2 separate regions of the Homo sapiens genome follow, and region 1 is linked to region 2. Evidence: fine-mapped expression QTL. A gene starts in region 2. The other region holds a variant in brackets. All regions are shown on one strand. Distances are between the middles of the regions.

Evidence for each region. PIP is the estimated chance that this variant, and not a neighbour inherited with it, causes the effect.
Region 1: its variant is fine-mapped to the expression of EDAR in whole blood (TOPMed, PIP above 0.99).

The regions. Positions count from the first base shown.
Region 1 is chr2:109,024,608-109,039,807 of GRCh38, forward strand. It overlaps a transcript of RANBP2 not described here. Among named protein-coding and RNA genes, the nearest start is that of EDAR, 43 kb to the left of the region's middle. The variant T/A (reference allele first, on the strand shown) is at 6,978.
Region 2 is chr2:108,982,540-108,997,739 of GRCh38, forward strand. It overlaps EDAR (ectodysplasin A receptor), which reads right to left and starts at 6,681. Exons shown (of 12, transcript NM_022336.4): 1 at 6,421-6,681. It also overlaps a transcript of RANBP2 not described here. RefSeq lists an enhancer at 5,154-5,655.

The sequences.
Region 1 (15,200 bases), 42 kb after region 2:
TGGAGACAGGCATGTCCACCAGCAAAGAGGCACCTCAGGGTGTCCACTTCATCCTATGTCCTTCCAGGTGATAGGTAGTGGGAGGCTTGGCCCGGCTGGTTAGGACTGTGGGCCCTAGTCTTGGACGTGTGCACCTGGGGACAAACCTTCACTGGAAGAGGGGAAGAAAATATTAGAACTTTAACTTCATTGTTTATCTAAATATTTTAAATTGATATTCTTTTTTAACTTATTTTATGATTGCAAAAACTATATATATAGCATATAATTGACCATATTAGCCACTGTTAAGTATAGAATTCATTGGGATTAATTACATTCACAATGCTGTGCAGCCATCACCACTCCTTCCAAAATATTTCATCACCCCAGATGGAACCTCTGCCCATTAAGCAGAGACTCCTTATGTCCCCTCTTCCCAGCTGCTGGTAACCGTTCCCTCTATGAATTGATCTCTATGTATTTGACCATTCTAGATAATTTATATACATAGAATCATACAATATTTGTGCTTTTGTGACTGGCTTGTTTCACTTGGGTTTTCAAGGCTTGCACATGTTGTATGTAGTGTGTATTAGAATTTCCTTCCTTTTTAAGGCTGAATAATATTCCATTGTGTGGACATACTGCACTTTGTTTAACTGTTAAACTGTTGATAGACTTTCAGTTGATTTTAGCTTTGTGAATAATGCTGCTCTAATCACTGGGGTATCTGTTTTGAGCATTTGTTTTCAGTTCCTTTGGGTATATATTAAGGAGTGGAGTTTCTATTCTTTTTATGTTTAAAAAGATCTGTTTTTGTGTTTATATATAATGGGTTAGCAGAGTAGTAAAGATATGATTTATAACTTGACGTACATATTTTGGGGAGCCAAAAATATTTTCTGGAAAAAGTCCATTATAAAAAACAAGGACATAGGGCGGGTGCGGTGGCTCACGCCTGTAATCCCAGCACTTTGGGAGGCTGAGGCTGGCAGATCACGAGGTCAGGAGATCAAGAGCATCCTGGCTAACACGGTGAAACCCCGTCTCTACTAAAAATTAGCCGGTTGTGGTGGTGGGCGCCTGTAGTCCCAGCTACTCGGGAGGCTGAGGCAGGAGAATGGCGTGAACCCGGGAGGCAGAGCTTGCAGTGAGCCGAGATCACGCCACTGCACTCTAGCCTGGGCAACAGAGCGAGACTCCGTCTCGAAAAAAAAAAAAAAAGAAAAAAAATTACATCAATAGGTTAGAGCTTCACATAGAGATTCTGGCAGCCACATGGTTAATTCCTAGATTTCTAGTTTTTCACAGAGATGGGGGACGACGTGTCCCATTTGGCCTGGGACAGTCCCAGCTGATGTCCTCATCCTGGTGTAATTGTTAGTAGTCCCCTTCATCCTCACCAAGGCCTGCCCTCCCTGGGGGAGCAGAAACGCTTGCAGTTCAGAGCAGGTGGGAAGAGACAGCAAGAGGAATTGGCTCAGCACCACCACAGAAAAGCAGCTCAGAAAGATCCAGTGCATGGAAGACAGCACATTTTATATTTAAAATTTTAATTTTGTTTATTCTAGAGAAAGGGTCTCACTCTGTCACCCAGGCTGGAGTGCAGTGGCATGATTGTAGGTCACCTGAGCTCCTGGGCTCAACAATCTTCCTGCTTCAGCCTCCAGAGTAGCTGGGACTATAGGCTCATACCACCATGCCTAGCTTTTTTTTTTTTTAAGAGATGGGGTCTTGCTATGTTGCTCAGGCTGGTCCTGAACTCCTAGGCTCAAGCGATCTTCCTGCTTCTGCCTCCCAAAGTGCTGGGACAATAGATAAGAGCCATCACACCTGGACAGCGCATTATTTTAATGGCCACCGTTTTTGCTTTTAGAAGAGTGTGTCTGAGGTATTGCCTGTCCCTTGGGCCCCTCTTCCCTCTGAAGCAAGGGGACCAAAGGCTGGCTATGCAGTCATGAGCTCCCAGCTCTAAGGTGAGGAAGCACCGTTAGTGTAGGATACACTGGATATGTCATGTATTCAAGTGGGGAAAGCAGCAGCCCAGACTGTGCCCCTCACATCCTGATTGCTCGGCACCCTCTAGGTGGGGAAAAAGCTCAAAATGATCTTTTAGAAACAGCTGCTCCTCTCAGTCTTATTTCCACACTTGCCAATTCAGAGCTGCCAAATACTTCTTAAAAATCATTAGAAGTGGCCGGGTGCAGTGGCTCACGCCTGTAATCCCAGCACTTTGGGAGGCCAAGGTGGTGGATCACGAGGTCACCATTCTGGCTAATGTGGTGAAACCCCGTCTCTACTAAAAATACAAAAAATTAGCCAGGCATGGTGGTGGGCGTCTCAAAAAATAAAAAAGAACCTCTGAAGACATTGGCCGGGTGTGGTGGCTCACACCTGTAATTGCAGCACTCTGGGAGGCCAAAGTGGGCAGATCACTTGAGGTCAGGATTTTAAAACCAGCTTGGTGCGTGGTGAAATCCCATCTCTACTAGAAATACAAAAATTAGTTGAGCGTGGTGGTTCGCACCTGTAATAGCAGCTACTTGGGAGGCTGAGGCAGGAGAATCACTAGAATCCTGGAGGCGGAGGTTGCAGTGAGCCAAGATTTGCACCACTGCACTCCAGCCTGGGCAACAGAGTGAGGCTCTGTCTCAAAAAAAAAAAAAAAAAAAAAACAAGGACCTCTGAAGACTTCTTGAAGGAGGGTGGGTCTCCTGGGGGACTAGCCTCATCTTGGAGGCATTGCAGAGGTCTCCTGGGCCCAGCCAGACCCCAGACATCTTGTTCCTTTGTGGAGTCTTCAAGGGAAGAGCTTTTGAAGCCATAAGGAAAGACTGGATTTTGAAGACAAAAGTAACTTTCCTCTTTTGAAGGCAGCATGGAGCCAAGGAAGCCTGTGGAGCCTGACATGAAGGCACAGGCTCTGAGCCTGGCATGTCCATCCACCCTCTGTTTATGATACCCTGGGCAGGGCCTAAGCCCTCCTGGGCCTCAGCTCCCCTCCTGTAAGTGGTGACAGACCTCACAGGGTTATTGGGCACTGACGTGGACAAAGTATCTGGAAGGAAGCAGTGCTGCGTAAGCGTCGTTATGACTATGGGGACTCAGCAGGACCTAGGCCAGGAGCAAGACCTAGAGTTGATGAGGGCCTGGGCTCCAGGAGTGGGCGGGGTGGGTGGGCGGCAGCTCTGCAGCCTGGCATGCTGGCCTCCCCGCCATGCGTCTTCCTTCTCCCTGCAGGCTCTGAGTCCCTGCCAGTCCCCTACTTCTGTCTCTCCCAGAGCTGCTACTCACAGATCCATCCTCAGAGGGAGCACTGGGCTCTGCCAGTTAATGCATGTGTCCTGCTGAGGCAGGGAAGAGCTCAAGGCTTTCCTGGTACTGTTTAAAAACATACTGGCAGGGTGAGGTGGCTCACGCCTGTAATTCCAGCACACTGGGGGGCCAAGACAGGCAGACATCTTGAGCCCAGGAGTTTGAGACCAACCTGGGCAACATGGTGAAACCCTGTCTCTACAAAAAATGCAAAAAATTACCTGGGCCAGGTGACATACACCTGTAGTCTCCACTACTCAGGAGGCTGAGGTGGGTGGATCACCTGAACCCAGGACGTTGAGGCTGCAGTGAGCCATGATCATGCCACTGCACTCCACTCTGGGTGACAGAGTGAGACCCTGTCTCAAAAGAAATAAATAAAATAAAAACATATTGTTCGATTTTAAATGCTAAACCATAATTGACACCTGAGCCTCAGGGCTAATGGAAAGTACAAAGTGCATGCTGGGCCACGGCCCTTACCTCCACTGAAGGAAGAGCCTTACACCAAGAAGGTAGGCCCTGCTGCTGCACCCTGGCTTCCCCGTTGCTGGGAGGCCTGTCTCCACACGCCACCCTCAGGCCCTCCTGCACAGTGGCTCATGGTGGCTGACACACTGTATTTGAGGGTGACAGTCCTTGCATCAACATCTGGACAGTGCTGAATGCTGTTTCAATCTCCTCTGCTGTGCCCTAAGCATCCGATCCCAACAGCCCTCACTTAGAGGAGTGCTCTGACCTATTCCACAGGCCCTCCGAGGGTGGCAGACATGCACCCAAATGAGTAGCTTAAGTCAGTAGGCCCGGTTCTTGCCCTTCCCCCACACATATCTTGCCCCTCCTACACCTTGACCCTGGACCTAAAGCAGCAGAACAGAGCTTAGAGGTCATCGGGTCTAAGCCCCACTCCTGTCTTCCAGAGCAGCCTCACACTCTCAGGATCTGTGTGGCTGTCAGGGACTGTGAGGGCCAACTGAGAATGCATGTGTGAATCTGGCTGTCACGACTTTAGTTGTGATTGTTTATTTATTTATTTGTTTGTTTATTTATTTATTTATTTAGTAGAGACAGGATTTTGCCATATTGCCCAGGCTGGTCTCAAACTCCTGGGCTCAAGCAATCTTCCCACCTCAGCCTCCTAAAGTGCTGGGATTACAGGCGTGAGGCACTGTGCCCGGCCTATGTGATTGTTTATTTCTTTAGCCCTCACCTCATTCTAAACTACAAAAATAAATAAAATAAATAAATAAATAAATAAGGTTTAAGGCAAGATTATTGTTATTACTGTTAATAGGACACCTGGGCCCTTTCCTCCTTCATGTCAACACTGAGTCTATGGAGTCCCTCCCCATCCCAGCCCCCATTCACCCCCATGGCCGCAGCTGCTGGGTTCTGCCTTGGCCACTCCTCCAAGTTCCTTCCATAAAGCTAGTAAAGCATCCAGGAGAGGGATGATGAGGGACCATGTGTAAATGGGAGAAACTTCATTAGGGTAAGGAAGGCATGGGAATCTGGAGGTGGGAAACCATGATGTGGCTGACACTGATGCCTGAAGTTATTGAAGGGTGCCTCAGCCCTCCTGGGAAGCAGCAGCTCAGTGTGTGTCTGTCCGTTTCCAAGGGAAAACCTGGTCCTCTCAATGAGGGGAAAGAGGAGATTCTGCAGCATGTGTGTCCCTGCCGGGCAAACTTTACAGCATCAGGCTCCAAAAGTAGAGCAGGGTGACCCTGGGGAGCCCTCCCTCCTTCCTCGGCCTGGGATGCCTGCCTGCTGCCTGTGCTGTCTCCTCTGTTCCCCTCTCCTTTCCTGGCTGGAACAGCTGCAGGACAGGGCCCCCCGGCAGCCATCATCCAGCCTTTCATCTCTATCCTTGTCTCCAGCCTTGCCAGCAACTTAAGCCTAATCATTGCACAATGAAAGGCTGTTTCTCTCAAATGGATGCAGACATCCTTAGCCTTCAGGGGCAGCCTCTTATTTTGCTCACAGATAAGGCTGTTTATTTTAAAGAAATACTATACTAATAACCCTCTTGACTTGACAAGGATCCTGGTTGCTATCTCTGTATTGATGGATTGATTGATTCATTCATTCAGTAAGCATTTACTGAGTGCCAGTTCGAGTGTGTGGGTGAGTCTTAGATTTACTGCCTCCTTGACATCATTCTTTAGAAAGAATTCTTTGACTCTAACTTTTGTTTGCTACCTCAGAATGTTCTGCCTATGCAAAGAACAGTTTCAAATCAACCTGGATTCGAGAGCTCATGAAACTGATCCTCAGCCTTCATTTTCAGCCTTTTCCTCAATCCTCCCCTGCACAGCCAGCTGGCTCAGCACTCTCCCCAGCAGGCCATGCGCTCAAGTGCTTTACCTTCAACATTTTCCCACTGAAGACCCAGCCTTCTCCTCTAGCCAAATTATGGTATGCTACGTAAAATTCCTTAGAATTCTATTTTAAGTGAATTTCACGTAAGTAAAGCCCATTGTTAATGTCATTGGAAAGGTTATTTTTAAATGAAGAGGTGTGCCATACCCTGCCAAATGTGATAATGTGTATAGTAGCACCTAGCACAGTGCCTGGTGCATTCTGGATAGACAGTAAATATGACCTGAATGAATGAAAGAATGGGCCTCACTGTCTGATGGGATGAGGCTCCCTGAGAAGGAGTGGGGAGTGGTGGCCTCTTTGAGGATGACCAGCAGGCTGTTAAGCAGAAGGCTCCTTCTAGAATTGTACTTTCCTGAGTACCTAGGACCAGCTTGGGGCCCCTCAGGCATCTGAATTTTTGGACCACTTTGGTTTATATAACCCACTTCTTATCCAGGTTCTGTCTCTTGACAGTTTTTGTTGTTGTTGTTGTTGTTTGTTTGTTTTCTAGGTCTCACTATGTTGCCCAGGCTGGTCTTGAACTCCTGGGCTCAAGCAGTCCTTCTGCCTCGGCCTCCAGAGTAGCTGGGACCACAGGTGCACCACACCCGACTTTGGCAGTTTTTTAACATCTCCCAAGTCTTTATTTTCTTGGTAAAATGGTTTAATAATTGGTATATATACTCATAACTAGTACACAGACTAACACAGTGTGCATGTATACCACCATCAGTGTCATCTGCACCTTTTGTCTCACTGACTCATGGTAAGACACGGAGCGCTCCACGAGGGGACGCCATGTGTGGAGATGCTGGAGTCTAAGGGTATTGTGATTGGGCAATGGTAAGAACTCCGGGTCCCTAAGTCCATTCCTGCTGCTACAACAAAACACCTTAGAGAGTAATTTATAAATAGCCATTTCCTTTTCACCGTGCTGGAGGCTGGAAGTCCACCATCAAGGTGTCAGCAGTGAGGGGGGCCTGTTCCTCACAGATGGGGGCTTCTTGATGGGTGCTGGCTGACTCAGCACAGATGGGGGCTCTGATGTGGCAGGGGTGGGGTAGAGACGGGAACGCTCTGCAGAAGGAGCGGAAGGGAGGAAACAGCTTCCTCCAGCCTTCTTATAAGGTTATCAGCCCCGTTCCCCTTACGACGGAATCACTTCCCTGGAGGCCCCCTCTTACTACTGTTGCACCGGGGACTGGGCTTCAATCAGTAGCAGCAGGGGATGCGCGCTCAGACCCAGCAGTCGGCTCTGCCCGCCTCGCCGGGCTGCACCGAGTCCGCGGGTCTCTAGCGCACGGCCTGGCCCCACG[T/A]GCGGCGAGGAGGGCGCAGTGAAGTTCTGCTGTGTGCACCCCCTGCAGCTCGGCCGGGAAGCGCCCGCTGGAGGAACGGAGAGCGCCGCTTCAGCGTCGGCCACGTGGGCCGGGCTCTGCCGGTGGCAACCTGGACGCGCTGCGGGCGCCGGCGAGACCTGCGCCAACGCCTACCTCCGGGCCACAGGCGGGATAAAGCTGCCCCACTTTGCCCCCAGCGAAGAGAACCCTCCTTCCTCTAAGTATTTTCTTCAGCAACTAAGCTTTTCTGTTTGCTCAATTTCTTGTCCCGTGAGCGCTACCACCCACCCCCCGCCACCTTCTTCCCCTCCCCCCACATCCGTTCACTCTCTTTGACCTTTTGCCAAAACTCTGAACGCTCGCTGCCCTCCCTCCCATTTCCTCACCGCGTTTCAGGAGCTGTAAGTTCTTGGTGTTCAAACCCCCTACGGTTACGTAAACAGAACTCTGCAGTTATCTTCTTTCCCTTTCTTCGGAGCTTTGTTTTCAAGTTCATTAGAGACTTCCTGTGGGTGTAATTACCGCTCTGCAGTTTTGAGCGCTGCCCACCTTCCCCCTGTTTTGTTAAAAATGTCATAGATCTTTGGAGATTTCTTTCACTTCTAAAGTTATTACCTGTCTGCCTGCACATCAATCTTGTTGATTTTATTTCAGGGCATTTTCCGGAGTGAACTTCTGCATAGCGATTTTTTTTGTCCCTCCCCACCCCCTCTTTGTTTTGCAGGAAGGTGAAATAAGACAGAAGAAAAGGGTTAGAACTTTAGAACTCCAGGACCCAACCTCAGTCCTTTCAAGCACCGTCTGCAAACAGATGCTGTGCTAGACTCAGCACCCTGTCTGGTGAAACTGCTCCTTGGGGTGACATCGGTCGAATGTGTGAGAGGCTTCAGCGGATGCCCTGACTTTTACACCATGGAAGGGCTTTCTCCTCACTCTCCATTCTTCATCCCACTCCATCCATGCGCTTTCTCCCCTCCCCATGGGGTGGGGTGGGGGAGTCTTTCCTCCAGCTGAGAGCAGAGGCCTTGGCCAACTAGATGTGTCTTCTGGGATTTCACAGTCGGGCCACCTCTCACCTCTTGCACAGGCTGGTGGGTTAAATGAAACTCCTGTAGCAACTCACAGAGCATTTGATTTAAAGCTAAGATTTATAGGAACTCACAAGTCAGAATGGAACAATAATTTCCCTCCGGTTGCACTGCCACTACTGAGGAGCAATCGCCTAATTCCACACAGAGTTTGCTGATTCTGTGGGCCTAACAGAGAACTCCAGATGGGCAACTAGGAGCTAAGAAGTGCATCCTATGTCACCAGGAGCTAATTTTCCCTGGATTTTCAAAGAGGCCTCATATTTGACCCATGTCATGGCAGGGTGAAATATAAGTCCTTCCTGAACCCTTGGAAGCTGAACGTTGTGGACATCAGCCATGGGAAATACATTTCCTTTAAACTGATCACCAGGCCTTAGTATGATCCATGCCTTGAGTGGACAGAGACCTTTCATGTTTGGTCATTACTCAGCCAGACACTTCTCTGAGAGGTGATGACTTCCCTAGGAAGGAATAACAAAGCCCCTTTCAGGCTGTTGATGGGCCCTGTCCACTTTAATTTTGCATTCAGCCTCGCTCATTTCTGTGAGCTGAGATTTTGATTATTCTGATTTCCACGACTCCTTTTGTGAAACAGAGACACTGAGGTGAATGCACGGGCCCAGTCCCCTCCTTTTTGAGTGTGCCCTCGGAAGCAGAGGCAGGTGGTGTTGCCGAAACACCCAGGTTCTGTCTAGGTCCTGCCGCTCCCTGCACAGAAAGCCAATCACAGAGATGACAAGTATTGCCAAGGAAGAAGGCTTTAATCAGGTGCTGTAGCTGAGAAGATGGGAGCCCAGTCTCAAATCCATCTCCCCATCCACCTAAAACTAGGGGTTTATACACCAGGGAAGAAAGATAACAGTGTGTAAGAAAACAGGAACTACGGAGGGGCAAGGAAGCAGTCACAATGTAGGGTATCTCATTGTCTGGATGTGTTGATCTGGTGAGTTTCCCTTCTTTGATGATACTTTTTTTTTGAGAGGCGGTGGCTCATGCCTGTAATCCCAGCACTTTGGGAGGCTGAGGCGGGTGGATCATTTGAGGTCAGGAGTTCGAGACCAGCCTGGCCAACATGGTGAAACCCCGTCTCTACTAAAAATACAAAAAAAATGAGCCAGGTGTGGTGGCGGGCACCTGTAGTCCCAGCAATTCGGGAGGCTGAGGCACGAGAATTGCTTGAACCCAGGAGGCAGAGGCTGCAGTGAGCCGAGATTGCACCACTGCACTTCAGCCTGGCGACAGAGGGAGACCCTGACTCCAAAAAAAAAAAAAAAGGTAAGGTTCAGCCAGGTGTGTTGGCTGACGCCTGTAATCCCAGCACTTTGGGAGGCCAGGTGGGTGGATCACGAGGATCACAAGGTCAAGAGATGGAGAACATCCTGGCAAACATGGTGAAACCCCATCTCTACTAAAAATACAAAAAATTAGCCGGGTGTGGTGGCAGGCACCTATAGTCCCAGCTACTCGGGAGGCTGAGGCAGGAGAATATCACTTGAACCCGGGAGGTGGAGGTTGGAGTGAGCCAAGAGTGTGCCACTGCACTCCAGCCTGGAGACACAGTGAGACTCCATCTCAAAAAAAAAAAAAAAAAAAAAAAAAAGGAAGGTTCAAACTTTAGAACCAGAAGGGTCAATTTCTACGTTTATCCAAAAAACTATTTATGGGACTATTGGGTCAATTTCAGTGGGAGGCCCCAGGGCCATGCCCCAGAGGAAGAGACTGGCGTTTAGGGAATGAAAGCACAGGGAAGTGAGGAACGTGGAGTATTGCAGAGCCAAGCTGAGGGGCTATGGCAAGAGAGGCGAAGAAGAAAGACAAAGCAGCAAGCCAGCAGGCAGAGGGAGGCACAGTGAGGCAAAAGCTGGTTCTGGAGCCACCATGTAAGCAAATTCAGCTCCTTTTACACCTGGCTCAGGCCACTTCATGGAGCTAAGGTGGGGCCGGGTGCCCCATCTTCATCATCCTGTACTCCTAGATTCATTGCAAATAGTTTGTTCTGAGTTTTAGGGCCTTCTGGGATGAATGAGGGGGGTGGTACCCCATTCTTTGCCCACCATAAGCAGCAGAGAAGGCCTCCTCAAAAACCCTGGGGGCTTAGGTAAAACCCCTCTCCTGTACAGAGCACACTGTGAGTGTTCAATAACCAGTCATGGTTAGATTATCCAAAAGATTATCCAAAAGCCCATGCAGGAGGAGAGGGTATGAAAAGGGCATGGGAAATATTACAGAGAAGTGAGGGGGCACATTTAAAGAAAAAAGAAAAGGAGACAAGAATGGGGCTTAGGTAGGTCTGACACTTGGTGGGGGCCATTAGCCAGAGGACCCAGTGCTGGAGAGCTATCCCTGGTTTGTGAGGAGTTACTGGTTAGATAACCTCCCTAGATTGGACTATCCAGAAGGATCAGCATGGTACACGTATGTTTTTTGTAAGATATTGTAAGACATCATTTGTTAGATGTCAGATCAAAAAGTAGTTTGTACCAAGTCAGGGCTCCCAACCTTCTCAAGTGTGATGGCCATCTTATTTCTTGCCTGTTAACTCTTTTTAATAGTGAAATATGACAAACAGAGGAAAGTGCATTAAAACCTGAGTGTTGACTGCTGGTTCCCCCAAGATGGAGAGTCCCATTCCTCCCAGACACTCCCTCTTACAGGTAAAATATCTGGACATAACACAACAGACAGCAGAAGAAGACTCTGAAAGCTGGAGGAAGGAAGAAAAAAAGCCTAGGGACCTCAGACCTTGAAGAATGACAGGTGTGAGTCCTTGGATTTCCTTATCACCCCCCACCCCACCCCGCCCTTACCCTGGATGAGGCACTGCAGAAGCCTCCAACCAGAAACCACCAGCAGGCACAGACAAGCTCTAAGAAAGGCCTGGTCCCCCCTGGTCAAAGCACAGAGGAAAGGCTGGCCTGACAACAAAAGGAAACCTTTTTGGCAATACCCACCCTATCCCAGCAAAAGTCTAGTGGGCCTAACAGAACCTTCTAGCCCCACCTGTAGCCTCTGCTCTGCAGAAGCTGATTGAGTGCTTGAACTCTCTGGCCTAGTAGGGTGAGCACTCGAGCTGGGAGCTAATCCTCTGTTCCCTTGGCAGGGCAAACCCAAATGGGTAAACACAAAAAAAATAATTAAACTTCTTAACATCATAAACACCCAAAACTACAAACAAAGGAGAAAATATTGAAAGAACCAGAGAGAAATGAAGCATTATTCATGAGGAATATTTGTTTGAATGACAGTGGATTTCTCATCTTGAAACCATGGAGGCCAAAAGGAAGAGGCACAACATTTTTCAAGTTGAAGATAGAACTTAGAATCACAAATCCAATAGCCACTGAAAACGCCCTTCAGGAATGAAGGAGAAATCAGACATTCTCAGATGAAAGAAAACTTAAGAGAACTTATTGCCAACCTAGAAGAAATGTGCTAATGTCAAGAAAGCTACAAACTACCAAACTCAACGAGGATGATAGAGACAACCTGAATAGTTCCATAGCTGCTACAGAAATTAAAGTTATAAGCAAACGGCTCACAAAAAAGAAATCTTCAGATGAAAATACTTTAAGGAGTATTAATACCAATTTTACACACTCTATCTCAGAAAGTAAAAGAAAGAACGTTTCCTGGCTCATTGTATAAGGCTAGTATTACCCTGATACCAAAATCAGGAAAATGCAGTACAGAAAAGAAAGTTATAGACCACTATCTCTATAAATTTAGACACAAAATTTATCAACAAAATTTTGTAAACCTAATACAGCATCGTATATAAAAAATTATATACACCATGATGAAGTGGGATTTATTCCATATATGCAAGTTTGGTTCAATATTCCAGAATCAGTCAATGTAATTTACTCTGTTAACCAGGTAAAGAATAAAAATGATTATATCATTTGATGCAGAAAAAAAGATTAACACAATCCTATGCCCATTCACGGTAAAAAGTCTCAGCAGACTAGGAATGGCGGGGAGTGGTGGGGACAATCCTAAGTTGAGAAAGAGCATCTATTTAAAAACCTAGGCTGGGCACAGTAGCTCATGCCTGTAGTCCCAACACTTTGAGAGGCTGAGATGGGCGGATTGCTTGAGCCCAGAAGTTCAAAACTAGCCTGGGCAACATGGCAAAACCCCGTCTCTTCAAAAAATACAAAAATCAGGCTGGGCAAGGTGGCTCACACTTGTAATCCCAACACTTTGGGAGGTGGAGGTGGGCAGATCACTTGAGGTCAGGAGTTTCAGACCAGCCTGGCCAACATGGTGAGACCTCGTCTCTAACAAACAATACAAAAATTAGCTGGGCATGGTGGTGTGCACCTGTAGTCCCAGCTACTTGGGAGGCTGAGGTGGGTGGGAGAATTGCTTGAACCCTGGAGGTGGAGGTTGCAGTGAGCCAAGATCATGCTGCTGCACTCTAGCCTGTGTGACAGAGTGAGACCCTGTCTCAAAACAAAACAAAACAAAAAAACAAAAATTAGCCAGAAAGGGTGGTGTGCCTGTGGTCCCAGCTACTCGGGAGGCTGAGGCAGGAGGATCACCTGATCCTGGAAGTTCAGGGCTGCAGTGAACCATAATTGTGCCACTGCACTCCAGTCTGGGTGACAGAGCAAGACCATGTCTCAAAAAAAAAAAAAAAAAAAAAAGAACCAAATACTTAATGGAGAAAGATGGAATGCTTTCTCCCTAAGATTGGGAAAGAGACAAGCAATCTGTTCTCACCACTCTAATTCAACATAGTGCTAGAAATTCTGACCACTGAAATAAGACAAGAAAGAGAGATAAAAAGCACAAAGATTAGAAGGAAAGAAATAAAACTGCCCTTATTTGTCAAAGACCTGGTTGTCTACTTAGAAAATCCCAAGGAATTTACAAATAACTCCTAGAATTAATGTAAAGTCGGCAAGGTAGCAGGGTACAATAGCAATACAGAAAAATAAATGTCATTTCTATATATTAACAATGAACATTTCAAAACTAGCATTAATAACACAATACCATTTATGACAGTTCCAAAGAAAATTATATACTTGGGCATGAATATAACAAAATATGTACAACATTTGCACGCTAAAATTATAAAATGCTTTTGAAAGAAATAAAAGAGGATTTAGCTAAGTAAATCCAACCAAGTTCATGAGTTGGGTGACTGAACTTCCTAAGGATGTCAATTCTCTCCAGATTGATTAATAAGTTTAATACAATTACTCTTAAAATCCCAGCAAGGTGCTTTGTAGACATAGACAATCTTATCCCAAATTTACATGGAAAGGCACAAGTCCTGGAATAGCTTAACCAAACTGGATAAAGAATAAAGTAGGAGGAGCCAGTCTATCTCACTGTGTAGCTACAGTAATCAAGGGAGTGTGGTATGGGCAGAGAGATAGACATGTAGACAAATGTGGCAGAACAGAAAACCCAGAAACAGACCCACACAAACATGCTCGACTGATTTTTATCAAAGGTGAAAAACAATTCAATAGAGAAGGATAGCCTTTTCAATAAACAGTTCTGGAGAAATTGGACATCCATAGGCAAAAATGAACCTTGACTTGTCTCAAACCATATACAAATATTAGCTCAAAATGGATCACAGACTTAAACCTAAAAGATATATGAATTGAACCTCAGCAAAATAAAAAACTTTTGCTCTGGCCAAGTGTGGTGGCTCACCCTGTAATCCCAGCACTTTGGGAGGCCGAGGAGGGTAGATTGCTTAAGCCTGGGAGTGCAAGACCAGCCTTAGCAACATGATAAAACCCCATCCTGTCAAAAATACAAAAACTAGCCAGTCATAACCCGGTCTCTAAATAAATAAATATATTAAAATTAAAAATAAATTTAAAACCCCAAATTTTGCCCCGTGAAAGACCTTATGAAGAAGACCTAAAGGCAAGCTACAGACTGAAAGAAAATGTTTGCAAACCACATAGCTGACAAAAGACTGGAATCTAGAATAAAGAACTTTCGAAATTCAAGAACATGTACATGTATTTCTTTTGGGAAAATACTAAGGAGTGGGATTACTGGGTTATAGCTTAAGACAATCCTTAACTGATTTCCAAAGTAGCACCAGTAACTTTCATGTTAACTAGCAGCATACGAAAGCTCCTGTTTCTCCACATTCTAGTAGTTTACATGATTTGTCTTTTTAATTTTAGACATTCTGGTGTAAGTGTAGTGGTATCTCTTTGTAGTTTTAATTTGCATTTTTCCATTATTAAAGAGGTTGAATGTGATGGTAAACTATGTGTCCAATTGGCTAGGCTATGGTATCCAGTTGTTTGGTCAAACACTAGTCCAGACGTTGCTGTGAAATTGTTTTTCAGATGTGATTAACATCTAAATCAGTAGACTTTGAGTAAAGCAACTTACCCTCCATTAGGCAAGCAGAATCCAATCCAATCAATGGAAGACTTTAAAAGCAAAGACTGAGATCACTGAAGGAGAAGGAATTCAGCCTCTAGACAGACTTTGGACTCAGGCCTGAAACATCAACCCTCCCCTGGGTCTCCAGCCTGCTGGTCTTTCTTGTGGATTTCAGACTTGTCAGTTTCCACGAAGGTGTGAGCCAATTCTAAAATAAATCTCTCTCTTACACACATCCTATTGGTTCTGTTTCTCCAGCAAGCCCTAATACTTCAATGTCTTTTAAGATTTTTTTTTTTTGAGACGGAGTCTTGCTCTGTCGCCCAGGCTGGAGTGCAGCAGCGCGATCTCAGTTCACTGCAGCCTCCACCTCCTGGGTTCAAGCAATTCTCCTGGCTCGGCCTCCCGAGTAGCTGGGACTACAGGTGCATGCCACCACGCACAGCTAATTTTTGTATTTTTAGTAGAGTCAGGGTTTTACCATGTTGGCCAGGATGGTCTCGATCTCTTGACCTCGTGATCTGCCCACCTCGGCCTCCCAAAGTGCTGGGATTACAGGCGTGAGCCACTGTGCCCGGCCTTCAGATGTTTTTTGGCCATACAGATTTCTTCTTTTGTTAAGTACCTATTCCATTATTCTCCCTTTTTTCTTTTTCTTTTAAAATTTATCTTATTTATGAATTTATTTATTTTTAGTTAATTATTTTTAACCTCAAGCCACAATATGCTTTGAGCTTTT
Region 2 (15,200 bases):
ATTTGCCTTCAAAAGCAACAACTGTGATAATCATCAGGATAATATTCTCCAGCGCCATTTCCCTCGCACATGCCAGGCACAGAAGGCAAGTCAGAGTGCTGTGTGTGGTCTGTTTGGATAATAATTTTCATCTGGAAACCTCAATTTGGAAACCAACTGGCAGTAATTCTAGAGAAAGTTTGGTCTCCTGGTTTTTAGAATTGACTCAAAACCGAGTGTCCCGAGTCACCTAAGTCTCCTTGCTTTGGTTACGTCTGCCCGTAAAATGAGAAGCAAAATTGCTTAGTGAGTGCTGGCGGGAAACTAGGACATTGGCGGGGTTCACAGTGGCCACAGAACAAGGACTGGCCACCCAGACAGGCCAGGTGCCTGCTGCATGTGCAGGGATGGTCTCTCTCTCTCCAAATCTCTCTAAGAATGAGCTAAAATTCAAAAAGAGTTCTGCTGAATGTAAATGGTACTTATTGGAGATTTTATTGCCCATAAAGAAATCCATCAACAGAAAACCACACTCTGCAAATCTACCGATGCACAATTAGTTTGTGCTGCTTACAAATCCCACTCTAAACTCAGCTGTCAGTGCCCTCCCTTGGCCACGCTTCTTGGAGATACAGGCTTTCTGCAGAGGATGCCGCATGTCAACAAACACATCCCCAAAGTGTACACTCTGATTTATCTTCTTCATTATGGACAGGAGGCTTTAGGAACAGCCATTTTGAGTCTTTATTAAGGACTAAATCTTAAAGAAAATGAACCTTGAGACTCCTCTAAAGTACCTTTTAGGGATGCTCAGTGCATTTCCATATTTTTAAGGATTAGGATTTTTTGGGGCCAGAGGTAATGTTTATTACCCAAGGACACAGAGCCTCAATCCAAACAGTAAACCATAAAACCACATCTAACTGGGTAAATAAAATCAGCCAACTTAATAGACATCTGCATCCCACTGGAGCATTCCCCGTGGCCTTCCACTTTCCTGTATTCATCAGACCCCAACCAGACATCAAGTCAACAATCCCGCCCTTCCAGCTCCTCCCTCGTGATCCATCTGTCTGCCTTGACTGCCCTGGAGTTCCCAGAGACAGGTATCCTCCTCCAGACTGACTTCCCTCCTAATCGACCTGCATCTTCCAGATACGAGGAAGGAAATCAAACTTTCCAGGTGCTGGTGGCTCCGTGCGGGACGGGGCAGGGAAGCCACCTTCTCTCCAACTCCAAAGGCCATATGGAGTCAACAGGAACAGGTCTGGCATGCTGGCCAAGGGCATCAGTGATCTCTGAACCCGTTCTCCAACAATTTTGCCAACTGAGCCATCAGAGAGCCACTGCGTCCCCACTCCATCTCACACCCGATGCTGGAAGGTGTCCCTCTCTCCAAGTGAGGAGGAAGCGAGTGCAGCTGGCCAGTGGCTCTGCGACTGTGGGAGTGTCCCAGCAGGGCTGCAAGGGGGGCGACGGCGATGTCTGTTGCTAAGTGTTCTTTCTCTGCACAACTTATTGAGTCTTGATAATCTACTTTCAGATTTTTGGAAGTGTAATCATGTGTTTCAGGTTAGGGTCTTCATAATTTTTCTCAGAATGGATCCCTTTGGCATGTGTTAACGGCCAAGGGAGCAGGTGTTGGTGAAAATGGATCATTCCTCTCCTGCCACCCTTCCTGCTGCCTGCCCTTCCTGCCCTGCACCTCAGCCAAGCCAACTCTCCCAGGAAGAGGCTACTTGGAGACCCAGCTCCTTAGAAGCAAATTACAGCAACCGGCGTGGCATGGGATGGGGTGGTGTGGGCACTGACTGTCCCAGAACAACACAGGGCGTGAGCCACCATGGCTGAACTTCCGCCCTGACTTGACTTCTGTTTGCCTTTCCATCACCCTCAATGAGAGCCCAGCCCCCTTGCCACGGCCCGCTCAGGCTCCTGGTTCTCCTCTCCTCTCCTTCTGTTCAACCCTCCTTTCCCTCTGCTCCGGCAGCATGGCCTTCCTGCTGGTGCTGGGACATCTCCAGCTCACCCCACCCCAGGGCCTCCTTTCTTGCGGGTGTCCTGGTTCACTCCCTCACTTCATCCAGGTCTTTACTCAACTATTTCATTTCCCAAGAGGCCCCCACTACTACCCTGGGCACCTTCTTTCTACCTGCCCTGCTAGTTTGTTTGTTTTTTTTTCATGGCGCTGGATTTATGCATTATAGCTTCTCTCCCTGCAGCAGAATCTAAGCTCTGTGAGTGCAGGGATGTTCTCTCTCCTCACCCATGGGACCACTGTGTTACTCACTACATCCCAGCATGGTGCCTGGCATGTAGCAGATGCCCAGAAAACATTTGCTGAATGAATGAATGTGCACTAAAACCAACTTGAAATCCTGCCTGCTTCCTCCTGTGCATGCAGGATTCTGTGCAAACATGGGATTGGAAATATGGCAAATGGAAGTTTTAAGAGAAGAGATTTGGTAACCATCTGAGAGTCGTCAAAACAGTGCATGCCCTCTCATTTTTTGCTTGCAGTCTGGTTTTGCATGTCTTTCTTCTATCCTAAGAAAGTGCTTTCTCTCAGGATTAAGGTGTTGTTGGCAGAATCAACTCTTTTTTATTTTCAGGAGACTAATACTGTATCTTATTTCAGTATTTGGGCTCACCTTTTAGTTGCCTATATCTAGCTATTGAATGGTATCAGTTAACAACATCAGCCTTAAGCCCACCACTAAGCTTGGCTTCTGTGCTACACTGCGGGCCTCAGGGCTGTTACTAAGAGTAACGTGACTGTGGTTGTTATTGCCCTCATTGCTGATTTCGTCCGACTCACAAGTGAAGGCGCGCCTTCCTACTGTGTTTGGAGCAGTAGGTCTGATTGACCGTGAAGTGAGTTAAGCTGGCATGAGCTCGCAGGGTGGTGCAGGCAGGGCTACCGCCACAGGTGCATCTTCCTCTGTAGGGCTCCTTACGGCCCACCTGTTTTCCATAGTCCTCTGTTTTCTCGGAAATGGAAAACAAAGGCATCCTGGCTGGTTACATGTGTACGTAGGTGTATAAAATGATGGGCATTTCCAGAGTGTGTCTGGGCAAGAGGATCTGGGCAAGGAAGCAGGACCTCCAGCTTCACCCACATGTGTCTGCTCCTTCCTGGGGTCCAAACAGTGTGTTTGCCACCCTTGGGCATCCAGCATTTGAGAAATAACAGGTGTCTCTGCCCCCAGAGAGGGTAGCTTTGCTAACTAGGATTTGTTTGCTTATTGACTTAGGGGATGCTGATGTTTGAGCAGCCCCCTTGTCCCTAACTGTGTCATTGGAACAATTGGTGACCTTTCTCTGACAAGAAGGATGAAGGAGCCCATTCATTCATTCATTCATTGGACATATTTTCATGGAGTGCATGATGTCCTTGGGGTGTGCTATGACTGAAGACACTTCAGGTTGTAGGATCCCTTAATACATGACCTAATGAATGGCTGATCCCTGCCAAGACCCAGGGCAAAGCTTTTTTCATAGCTTTGACTGTACAGGGTCAGCTATCCTTGGGTAATGCTTTGTGACACTCTAAGGGCAATGATGAAAAATTAAATATGGTCAAGCTCATTTGTCTCAGGGGCCAGTGGGCTGTTGGGATGCCTGAGCCCCAAATGCCATTTTGAGTTTTTTTTTAGTTACTAGACTATCTTAGACTGAACCACCTACAATGGCCTATATTTGACAGTTTTTTTCACTATATAAAAACTACAAACACTCTAACTTTTATCAGGAGGGTTCACAAAGAACAAAACTGAGACTGTTTCCTCTTGATCCCTCGCCTCTGAGGACAGGAGATGAGTGTGTCTGGGGCTGACACGACCCTGGGAAACTAAGATACAGGAGGGGGAGTGTTTGCTTACTCCACTCTTATTTTTATAATCCCTGGTGGCTGTCATTGCACCATCTCCTTGTGGGGGCAAATGTGTCAGTGTTGGAGGCAGAGGACACAGGTTCTAGTCTCAGCCCCTCCAATTATGAGTGACAGGCTCCACACGAGGCCTGGGCATACTGAGTGCTAACCTAGACCAGTTCTTGGTGTTCCCATAATCATTATGAGCTGTGGGACTTCGGGCAAGACAGTGAACCTCTCTGAGCCTCAATTTCCTTATTGGGAAAATAGAGAAGACATTCATGACAACGCTTTGTAAAGTGCCATAGAAATGTACAGCAGAGGTTAAATGATTAGACATCAGCTTATGTTTCCTTGCTTTATTTTTTAGGAAAATAGTAATCTTTGGGACTTAAAAAAAATTCCTTCCTGCAATATACGAATTCAGTAAGGACAGAATCGTAGGCATTGAGATGGAGGCGGCATACTCACAGGAAAGGCTGGCTGGGGCTTTTGTCCCCTAATTGATCTAATGTGCTAAGTGGGCTTAATGTAAGTTAATTAATGATACTATTGGTGGGTGGAATACCTAGGCAGAGCCTCAAACAGCATCAAAGGAACGAGCAGGCAGGTGTCATCCAGGATAATTGAGGCATGCAGGCAGTCACTAGGCAGGCTAGGAGGAGGGTGAGGGGAAACTGAGCCCAGCTGAGGGGCTGAGCCACTTAAGCAGCAAGGCTGTCTGCCAAACACCATCCTGTTTACAGCTCCTGTATTTGAATTTCAGATTTGCTTGAGTCTTTGAAGCTGGGTTCCTGGGCATTTCCTTGAGAATAAATTCTATTCTTTGGAAACCACAAAACGCACTCACTTGGACCCAGAAAGGAGCGTCAGGTAACCCAGCTTCCATCTGTGGGCCTATGAGACCTGAGGAACTTTGACTAGAAGAGGCTCCCCATTTAACAGAGGCAAGTAGGTTTTGCGCTCCGTGAGATGGGGTAAGACCAGGTCTGTCTGCACTCCGGAGCAATGTTGGGCTGCCGCCCAATGGCAGGCACTGGGCTAGGCAAGAGGGTACCATGATGCCTGAGAAACAAAGATGAGCCCCTGACATGTCTGTGCTTCACAAATGTGTATGCCCAACAAAATGAAAGTCCAGCTCACAAAAGCAAGAAACCAGGTAGTGGCCAGGGAGTGAAAATCAAGCATTTCAGGGAAAGTGTATTTACTTTTTCCTCCCAAAGACTGGTCCTTCCAAGATTATCCTCCAACTGTGCTGTCACAAATTAATCCTCCCACAGCACAGCCTGGCCCACTTAGGGATGGGGAGGGGTACAGTGGAGACCCCCGGCCAATCGCCACCAGGATCGCCAAACTTTCCCAGCCGTGAAGGGTACACGTGGACTGTCATCGGAACGAACGCTTATTTCCAAGCCTTGACCAGAGTCACTCTCTTTTTGGTGGCCTCTGTCAAAATGTATCTTTAAAGGTTTTAAGTGGCTATGACTTACAAATCTCAGAGTATTAAGCCAGGCAAGAAACATTCTCTATTTTAGATGCCTGGATCCCTTTTTTCCTTCAGTCTATTATGGCTCTTCACTTCTTTGTTACACTTTCACTCTTGCTTAGAAAGTGTCTCAAAAATGCCACTTGAGAGCCACAGAGCAGTGGCCTGGGGACTGGGGAAGAGGACGGTGGTGCTCCTGTCTCTCCGTACGTCTCCTCACATGCGTGTACCCCTGGCTGTGTGGGATTGCCCACTGACCGGCATCTGCCCTGCTTGTTGATTTTAACTGTCCCTCTTGTTGCTGACCCAGCACAACATGGGCAGGGAAACCCAGTGGGAACCTCGCCTGCTGACCTCCCTGCCCAGCCACCCGCTTCTCCCTGAGCTGACATCTCAAAGCTTGGCTGCTGCAGGAGGCTGGGAATCAGAGCCGACTGAATCAGAGCCGACTCCTGTCTAGGAGCCCAACCCACCCCACGGTCTGTCAGAGTGTTGAGAGGAACCTCTTGGCTGGAAATGAAAACCTCAATCATCACAAATAGGTACCCACTCCCCTCCTTCTCTCCCTCTCCCCGCTCCCCCGCCACCAACACAGAGGCCAGGATATGGGGGGTCTCAGACACGACTGGAAACCCCACTTGGAAGGTCTCTTAGGTCACAGCGGGTACGCAGAGTTGGAGGCAGGTACAGAGCCCAGCTAGAGTCCCTGCCGCGCCTGCCTTCCCCAGTGAGCCGGGCACAGGGGCAAACCTGAGAAACATACTTTTCACGCTCCCTGGAGGAACCCGTTGCTTCAGTAGCCCAAATCTTAAAGCCTGTGAAGCACACACAGAATTTGTCTCCCTAACCAAATGTGCAACCAACAGCAAAACAGGGTTTCTGATGTTTTTCTAAAACAAAGGAACAATCTCAGGTCTTAGAACTGGTAGCGCAGACATACTGCAATCGGTAAAGCTTGTTCAAACGCAACCCAAAAATGACATGCATTTCAAAAATGCACCCAGCCTCTCTCCCAGCCCATGACACCTCCGTCTCGGCCACAGCTGAAGAGTTTAGAAAACCAGAGGAAAGGACCAGGGCTTACCTGGCTTCTGTTGGAGGTCAGCTTCAGTCCCAGCAGAAGATGGGTCTATGAAGAAAGTCAGGTACCATCCAGTTCTGGGTGACAGGCTTCACAGGTGGCCACCGTGGCAGCCCTCTCAGAAGCAGGTACTCTATGTCCTTAGGGGCCAGCAGGGCTGCCTGGGACCTGGCACACCTCTCTGACACTAGCCCCGCTTCCTTTCCGTTTAAAGGGCTTCCCGGGAACTCTTCCTTGACCGCTCCCTGCCCTGTCTGCAAGTTTGGAAACTCAGTCCTTGCCGAGGGGCTTTCCCTCATTGCAAACTCACCTGCACCATCTAGAGGTCTCTCCCAGCACTGGAGAGGCTGGAGCGGGCACGTTCAGCCCTGCTGCCATAGGTCCCTGGCACACCTGGCTCTCCGGCCGTCTGCCCCTTAAGAGATCTGTTGGAATGCGTAAAAATCATGGATTTTTTTTTTTGCAGGGGTGGGGGCCTTGCTTCTATCAGAGCCTTTAGGCGTGGGAGTGCTAAAAAGCTAAACTAGCATTAAAATATCATTAATCAAAGCTTGTTCGTAGAAGGACCCCCCACTGAGATGGCTACAGGCATGGGTGCCACTGCACGGATTCAGCTTCCAACATGTCTGTTCACATTCTCACCCATCCCCCGCACATCCCTCAGGGTTTGAGCCACCAGGACTGCTCTTCCTTTCCTCTCTCTGGACACCTCACACCACCAGTGTATACCCATGTAACTTCAGATAACCATACACACCCCCCGTATAACTAGGTAATTAGGAAGCCATTTGAAACATCAACATTTTGAAAGGACATACCTTTCAGTATTGGGCAATTATTTCTCAAAAAGTAAATGATTGGGGGGGGGAAAACAGCCTTAAAATAATGTCATTCTCTTGTCATTTTCTCCCTCATTCACACCTACACAGATAAATACAGGAACAGAGCAGCTCCTCCAGGCTAGATTTCTGTGTTCTCCTTTTCCATCTTGTCCCCTCTGCCTTGGAAACCTACAAGGTAACTCACACATGAGAAAGTAAGAGCTTAAGAAAGAAACAGTCTGGGCTCCGTGGCTCACACCTGTAACCCCAGCACTTTGGAGGCTGAGGCGGGCAGATCACTTGAGGTCAGGAGTTTGGGATCAGCCTGGCCAACATGGTGAAACTCCGTCCCTACTAAAAATACAAAAATTAGGCCGGGCGCGGTGGCTCACGCCTGTAATCCCAGCACTTTGGGAGGCCGAGGCGGGTGGATCATGAGGTCAGGAGATCGAGACCATCCTGGCTAACAAGGTGAAACCCCGTCTCTACTAAAAATACAAAAAATTAGCCGGGCGTGGTGGCGGGCGCCTGTAGTCCCAGCTACTCGGGAGGCTGAGGCAGGAGAATGGCGTGAACCCGGGAAGCGGAGCTTGCAGTGAGCCGAGATTGCGCCACTGCAGTCCGCAGTCCGGCCTGGGTGACAGAGCGAGACTCCGTCTCAAAAAAAAAAAAAAAAAAAAATATACAAAAATTAGCCGGTGGTGGCATGTGTGGAGGCTAAAGCAGGAGAATTGTTCGAACCCAGGAGATGGAAGTTGCAGTGAGCCGAGATTGTGCCACTGCACTCCAGCCTGGGCAACAGAGCGAGAATCTGTCTCAAAACAGAAAAGAAAAGAAAAGAAAAAAGCAGACAGAAATGTATGGGGCTGGGGCAAGGACCTAGACTGTAAAGGACTAATTCTGCCTCCACAGAGATTAAGCTGAACCAGAGTTACTTAGCTGACTTGATCCTTGTGGATGATTAATCTAGATAATATAAGCTCCCAAACAAGAATTTTAACTTGAATTTTCAGGTTTGGTTGTCTACCCTGCTCATGCCGAGTTCAGACTGAGGGTCTGTGATAAATTAAAGTCACTGAAATTATTAAATTAGGAACCTGGGAAAATGAATGGGAGGTATTCTGGGCTAATCTGTTCTACTCCATATAATTTTTACTTTCTGGTGTGCTCACAGTGTGTTTGAGGTTTGGGATTATTTTAGGTGTAACTAAAACATTTTTTCTATTGGAAATTAAGTGGTGATTTAAAATTTACCAAAAGGAATGATACTGATATTTCCCAAAGAGAGAGAAAAAAGACACAAGAAAAAATTAAAATGGCACAAAATATGGATGCTGTAATAGAAGCCAAGGGAGTTTTTTCCTCTCTTTGAAAAAAATCCAAACATCATGGCATTAAGCAAGGTTATGGATGGTTATACTTGAAGTCTGCCTAGTCATCATATCCAAATGAAAATGAGTATATAATTAATTCAGTTGATTAAGAGAAAGAATGAAATGAGAAATCATTGCTTATCTTCATCATGTAAAGCTCCAGAGCTTTGAAGATATGTGATTTTCTGTTTTATACATTTCCTAAGAGACTGAGGCAGAAATAGCAACAGGTTATCAATAGCATTTTTTAAGTAAGAAAATGAATCAAGACTGCAGAACATGGTTGGGTGAAGGGGGTCTCCTGGGGCTGTGTTCTAAATTTAGAACAAATTTAGAAATGATGAATGTAATTTAGAACAAATGAATTGTAATTTAGAACACATGCTTGCTACACATAACAGCCCGGCCAGCCACCTGCCCCCTTCATGAGGTGTGCTCAAATGCATGGCCAGGAGTCTTATGGAGGGGCACAACAGGCAGGCTGGCCCCAGCTCTCAGCTCCGCAGCAACAAAACTTCGCAAGTGATTTTAGAGAGTCAATGGACTCCCATCCCTGTAAAAAACACTCAGGGGTTGGTAAGAATTATCTTGCAGATCAGATAATTTCCAGTGAGTGAAACAGAGCCATATTCTGGTCATCGTGATTTTAAATTTGTGTCTTTTATTTTTTTGGTGAGACAGAGTCTTGCTCTCTCGCCCAGACTGGAGTGCAGTAGCGTGATCTTGGCCCACTGGAACCTCTGCCTCCCAGGTTTAAGCGATTCTCAGCCTCCCGAGGAGCTGGGATTACAGACATGTGCCACTGCTCCCATCTAATTTTTGTATTTTTAGTAGAGACAGAGTTTCACCATGTTGGCCAGGCTGGTCTCGAACTCCTGACTTCAAGTGATCCTCCTGCCTCAGCCTCCCAAAGTGCTGGGACTACAGGTGTGAGCCACCGGACTCACCTTAAATCTGTGTCTTAATTACAAATCTCATGTTGTGTGAGCAGAAAGAAAATCCTTGATACCCATGTACCCCATCAAAGTAGCATTCTCCTATGCCATCATGTTCATGTGTTTATTCATGCAGCAAATGCACGTCACGTCTTCTACGTGCCGGTACTGTTCCAGTTGCTGGGTAGATCACAATGAGAACAACAGTCAAAATCGCTGGCCTCAAGAAGCTTATGCTCTGTTTGGGGAGGCATAGAGTAATCAAGTTATGAAATGGAGATGAAAAGTACTTCTTGGCCGTGATAAGCAAGGGTGCACAGGATGCCTGGATTATTTGTGTTTGTATGTGAGGGGATTATCAGTTGGCTGGTGACAGTTTCCTGCTACTAATTACTGTCTCAAAAAGTGGCAGGGGAATCAAACACTCCAAAAGCAAGATGCTCCTGTCTGGCAGCTGGGCCCTGACATATAATTGGTTTCACCTAACAACTCACCACAGCAAGTAAACTTCTGGTTACCTGCAGGTGAAGTCTATCTCAGAAAACCTTCCAGGAAATGACATTGCTCAAATCCTAACACAGTGTGTGTATATTTGATGAAATGTTTTTATGCTCATGGTGACACCCACTAAGTTATTCAGAATAAAATGATCACAGTTCTGTCTATAGTGTAGAGTTTGCAGCTTCAAATTTGTCCCACAACTGGGACTGTTTTCTGGAAGAACGTTGCCCCTGCCTCGTGGCACAGTGGCTCCCAGGACTGACCTGGCCTGGCTTCTTTGCTTTCCTAAAATGCGTTTGTCCCCAGCTCTGTCAGTGGTAACCTCACAGGGCTCTGCCCTCCTCAGCACTGGCCAGCTAGTTTTTAAAGTATCATCTCAGAGCACCCGCTACTCATGTGGTCACAGTTCCATAGGCAGAAAAAACAGGAATATAAATATTTGTGATTTAAAGTCTCTCTTAGGAACCACACCTTCCTAGGCTTGCAAATGTGCCTAAAATATGAGAATGGAATTGGGTGATACGGCGGACACCAGCAAGCTGATGTGGGGGTAAGGGGGTGTGAGGGGCGGTGCTTTGGTTGTTGAGAAGGAAAGTTGACCAAGACTTGCGAAGGAAGAAGGCAGTCCTGCAGAGTTGGGCAGAAGGTGTTTCAGATGGACCAAAGGTCTTGTACAAAGGTCCTGTGGGGCCCAGAGCCAGGTGTGCTGAGGAAACTGACAGGAAACTGTGGCCACAAAGCAGGGAGCTGGCCTGGGAGGCAGCTGAGCCCAGCCCAGGAAGGGTGGTAGAGACCACATTCCACGTGGGGGCTGGACAAAAGGGTATGGATTCTATTCCAAGTATATCATGATTTGAAAATGATGGAAACTTGTTTTAGAAGTAAAATGGGCCACTATCCTTAGCAAAATGAGGAAAGGGAGAGACTAAGTCTGGGGGAGTATTTGCACAGAGGGAGGGCCTTTAGGGTGTCACCTAGATACCGGGAGATGAAATGCTATGTGAACCATTGTCAAGCTTGGGTGATCTGTCCTCCCCCAGCATAAATTCAGATGGGACAGCTCCAGGTCAAAGGCAGAGGAAAGAGCTGGGCTTTGCGTTGATTGTACCCTATTGGAGAATGAGATTCTGCATTTAGTTATTTAACTAAACTTTGAACACTGACCCCCTGCTACTGATTAAACAAAAGCCTGGCTTTCCTTTGGCTACCTGCCTTAGCTTGGGCTGCTATAACAAAAATATTGTAGGCTGGGAGGCCTCAACAACAGACATTTGTTTCTCCCAGTTCTGGAGGCTGGGAAGTCCGAGATCAAGGTGCCCAGCAGACCCAGTGTCTGGTCATCTCCCATGGCAGATGGGGTGAGGCCGCTGTCTGGGGTGTCATTTACAAGGGCACTAATCCCATTCATGAGGCTCCATCTCTAGCCTCCATGACCTAATCACCTCCCAAAGACCCCACCTCCAAATACCATCACCTAGGAGCTTAGGATTTCAATATATGAATTTCAGGGGAGACACAGACACCCAGACCACAGCACTTCCCATTTGCCCAGGATTCCCCCCATGGACACCTTATTAAAAATGCAAGCTGGATTTGGAACACAGCTGTCAATAATGACTCTGGTCACATAAAGGAAGGACCATAATGAACCACCTCCATGGATGAAGGAAAGCTTCAGGCCAGGAGCTTCGTGCAGGGCAAAGGCATGCCCTCTCCCGTGGCCTAAGCTCTCTCTGCTCCCCAGCCAGGGTTTGAGACGGCCCCCACCACCTCCATTATGTAAGCAGTGAAAACATAATTGAAATTGATCCTCGCTGAGAATGGCTTTACGAGCTTGAATAGTGCAAAGGTTCAAATACTAAATCTTTTTTACGATCTGTAATATTGTCATTTAGCTCAACAGTACACATCACTATGTTTTTCTAATAAAGGAAACCACAAGAGTATTATAAAACCTATTTGCACTATACCAGAAAAATTAAGAGGGGAGAAAACTGAGTTTAGAAATATGAAATATTGATATCTTCATTTGAAAATCAACAAATTCATCCTTCCAATAGGCAAGTACATATTTCTATCATAAATCATGGCTCCGGGGAAAGGGGATTATGGGGTCATGGGATTATCATGCTATTAACCAGTGGATATCTAAAAGCAGGGAAGTATGGGTCCATAGTATAAACATAAAAAATTATCTGTGCATTGGGTTATATATATATATATATATATATATATATATATATCTTTTTTTTTTTTTTTTTGAGACAGAGTCTCGCTCTGTCGCCCAGGCCGGAGTGCAGTGGTGCAATCTCGGCTCACTGCAAGCTCCACCTCCCGGGTTCACGCCATTCTCCTGCCTCAGCCTCCCGAGTAGCAGGGACTACAGGCGCCCGCCACCACGCCTGGCTAATTTTTTTGTATTTTTAGTAGAGATGAGGTTTCACCATGTTAGCCAGGATGGTCTCGATCTCCTGACCTCGTGATCCACCCGCCTCGGTCTCCCAAAGTGCTGGGATTACAGGCATGAGCCACCGTGCCCGGCCGCATTGGGTTTTATTTATTAGTATTTATTAATCAATGGATTTTTTTCTAGAGACAGGGTCTTGCTCCATCACCTGTGCTGGAGTGAAGTAGTGAGACTGCGGCTCACTGCAGCCTCAAACTCCTATGCTCAAGTGATCCTCCCACCTTGGCTTCCCAAGTTGCTGGGAATACAGGTGTGCCTGGCCAAATTAATGAAATTAAAAATCACACCTATTACAACATTTTGCAGGTAATCTGTAAGGCAGAGGAACGATTGATTTACAAGGGCTAATGTGTTCTTGCAGGGGGCATGTTAGTTCTCCCTTACTCTTCACCTGCTATGGATATGAACCCATTGTCCAAAGATCCCCAAAGCTGTGGTCAGCAAAAGAAAGCCAAAATGGGAATAAACAGGCATTTTAACAGGAATTCACCCTGGCTGGCAGAGCTGCTGCCTGCCACCTCTTCCCAGCCTCCCTTCTCCAGCAGGAATCTCCCAGCTCTGCTCAGAGCAATATGCCTGGCTAAATGGTTGCATTTCTTAGCTTCCCTTGCAGTTAGATGTTGCCGCGTGCTTCAGAACTGTCCAATGAGCCACAGCAGGTGTCAGAGACTTCCAAAAAGGCTGCCAACTCATCTGGGAGGAAGCTGTTCTGCCCCTTTCCATGCGTCCCCTTTGCTGCCACCTGGAGTGTGAACATGACAGCTGGGTAGACATCAGAGTAGGACGGAAGGAGCTCCAACCCCTTGTGCAGCTGCCCCACCAGGCCCAAATTACCTGCCTCATTCATGGGAAAGAATAAACCCTCATGTCTTTCAGCCACTGTAGCCAGGCCTTATTAATAAAGACTAATTAATTTGCAGTTTCTCATTATGAAAAATTGGGATATGCAATTTATTCTTTTCTAGATAAGCAAGGTTTAAGAAAGTCTGCTTTATGGCAATTTTAGCTTTCATATCAGTTCTGCTGGGGTATCATTCATAGTATAAAATGATTCCCCAAGGAAATGAAGTGTTGACTAACTGGAAAGATTCTGATTTGGGAAGAGGGAGTGAAGAGTGAGAGTTCCCTGCTGCCTAACAGTGGGGATAGGTGCCAGGCTTCTGGTGTTGACCAGGTTTGAACCCCAGGAAGGTCTGAGTCTGGGTCTTGGTTCCACCCTAAGCCACACAGTTTAGGGATCTTTACACCCCAGGTGCAGGGATGTACGTTTAAGTCCAGCACAGTTTCTCACAATCCCAAACTGGGCTGGACACTAGAGAGCTCTCCTCTACTCATGCCTTCAAGGTGGCTGGTAATGTCCAACCACACTCCTTGGGAGCAGCTCAAAGTAAATAAGAAAGGCTCCAGATAGGTGAGTGGCCACCAGGACACTGGCCTCATTAAGCAGGCCCATTAACGGTATGCGCCATGGACTTCAACAATGAAATACATACCCCAGACGGGATCTAGGGGATTCACTGACTGGGAGAGAGTATGTGGAAACTTCTACTTCCATTCCCCCCTGCCCATGAGCATGGAGCCCAAGCCTGCTGTGCTGTTGTCCTGTGCCTTTGAATCAGTGATCTTACCAGCAACATCCATCTGCACAGGCCAACAGTGTGGCAGTAACACAGGAACCCTGAAGTCTCGGTGGCATAATACAATCATAGCTCGTTTCTTGCTCATGTCACATCTGATGCGGGCTAGGTGGCTTTTCCAGATGGTTCTCCTGCCAGCAGTGACTCAGAAACCCAAACTCCTTCCAGCCTGTGGCCCCACCATCTGCCTCTTCTCAGGTCAGACAGGAGCAAAGGCTTGGATGAGCACATGGGATGCTCAGGACCAGGCCCAGCAGTGGCACACCACTTCAGTTGGCTAGCATCTACTCACATGCCTCCAGGCTGACTGCTGTAAGGGTGGGGAGTGCAGTGTTTTTGTGTGTCCAGGAGCAGAAAATGGGATTCAAGTGTGTAACTAGTCTCTGTTGCCAGAAACTTTCCTAAACTCCTCATTCTGTTTAAACAAAACCTCTAGCCAGTGGGTCTGAAGCATAAGATGTCCTAGTATGGCTGGGCGCAGTGGCTCACGCCTGTAATCCCAGCACTTTGGGAGGCTGAGGTGGGCAAATCACGAGGTCAGGAGATCGAGACCAACCTGGCTAACACGGTGAAACCCCGTCTCTACTAAAAATACAAAAAATTAGCCAGATGTGGCGGCGTGCGCCTGTAGTCCCAGCTACTCAGGAGGCTGAGGCAGGAGAATGGTGTGAACCCAGGAGGCAGAGCCTGCAGTGAGCTGACATTGCGCCACTGCACTCCAGCCTTGGAGACAGAGCAAGACTCTGTCTCAAAAAAAAAAAAAAAAAAAAAAAGATGATGGTCAGTAAGGGTTTAGAAATGTCCAGAGAACACCTGCATTTCCAACCTTTGGCATACCTAACAGATAGAAAGAGGCAGGATGGCTGGCTGGATATCTGGCCCTGGAGCCTGAAGACCTGGTGTTAAGACACTGCTCTGTGGCCGAGCACGGTGGATCACGCCTGTAATCCCAGTACTGTGAGAGGCCGAGGTGGGTGGATAACGAGGTCAGGAGTTCAAGACCAGCCTGGCCAAGATGGTGAAGTCCCGTCTCTACTAAAAATACAAAA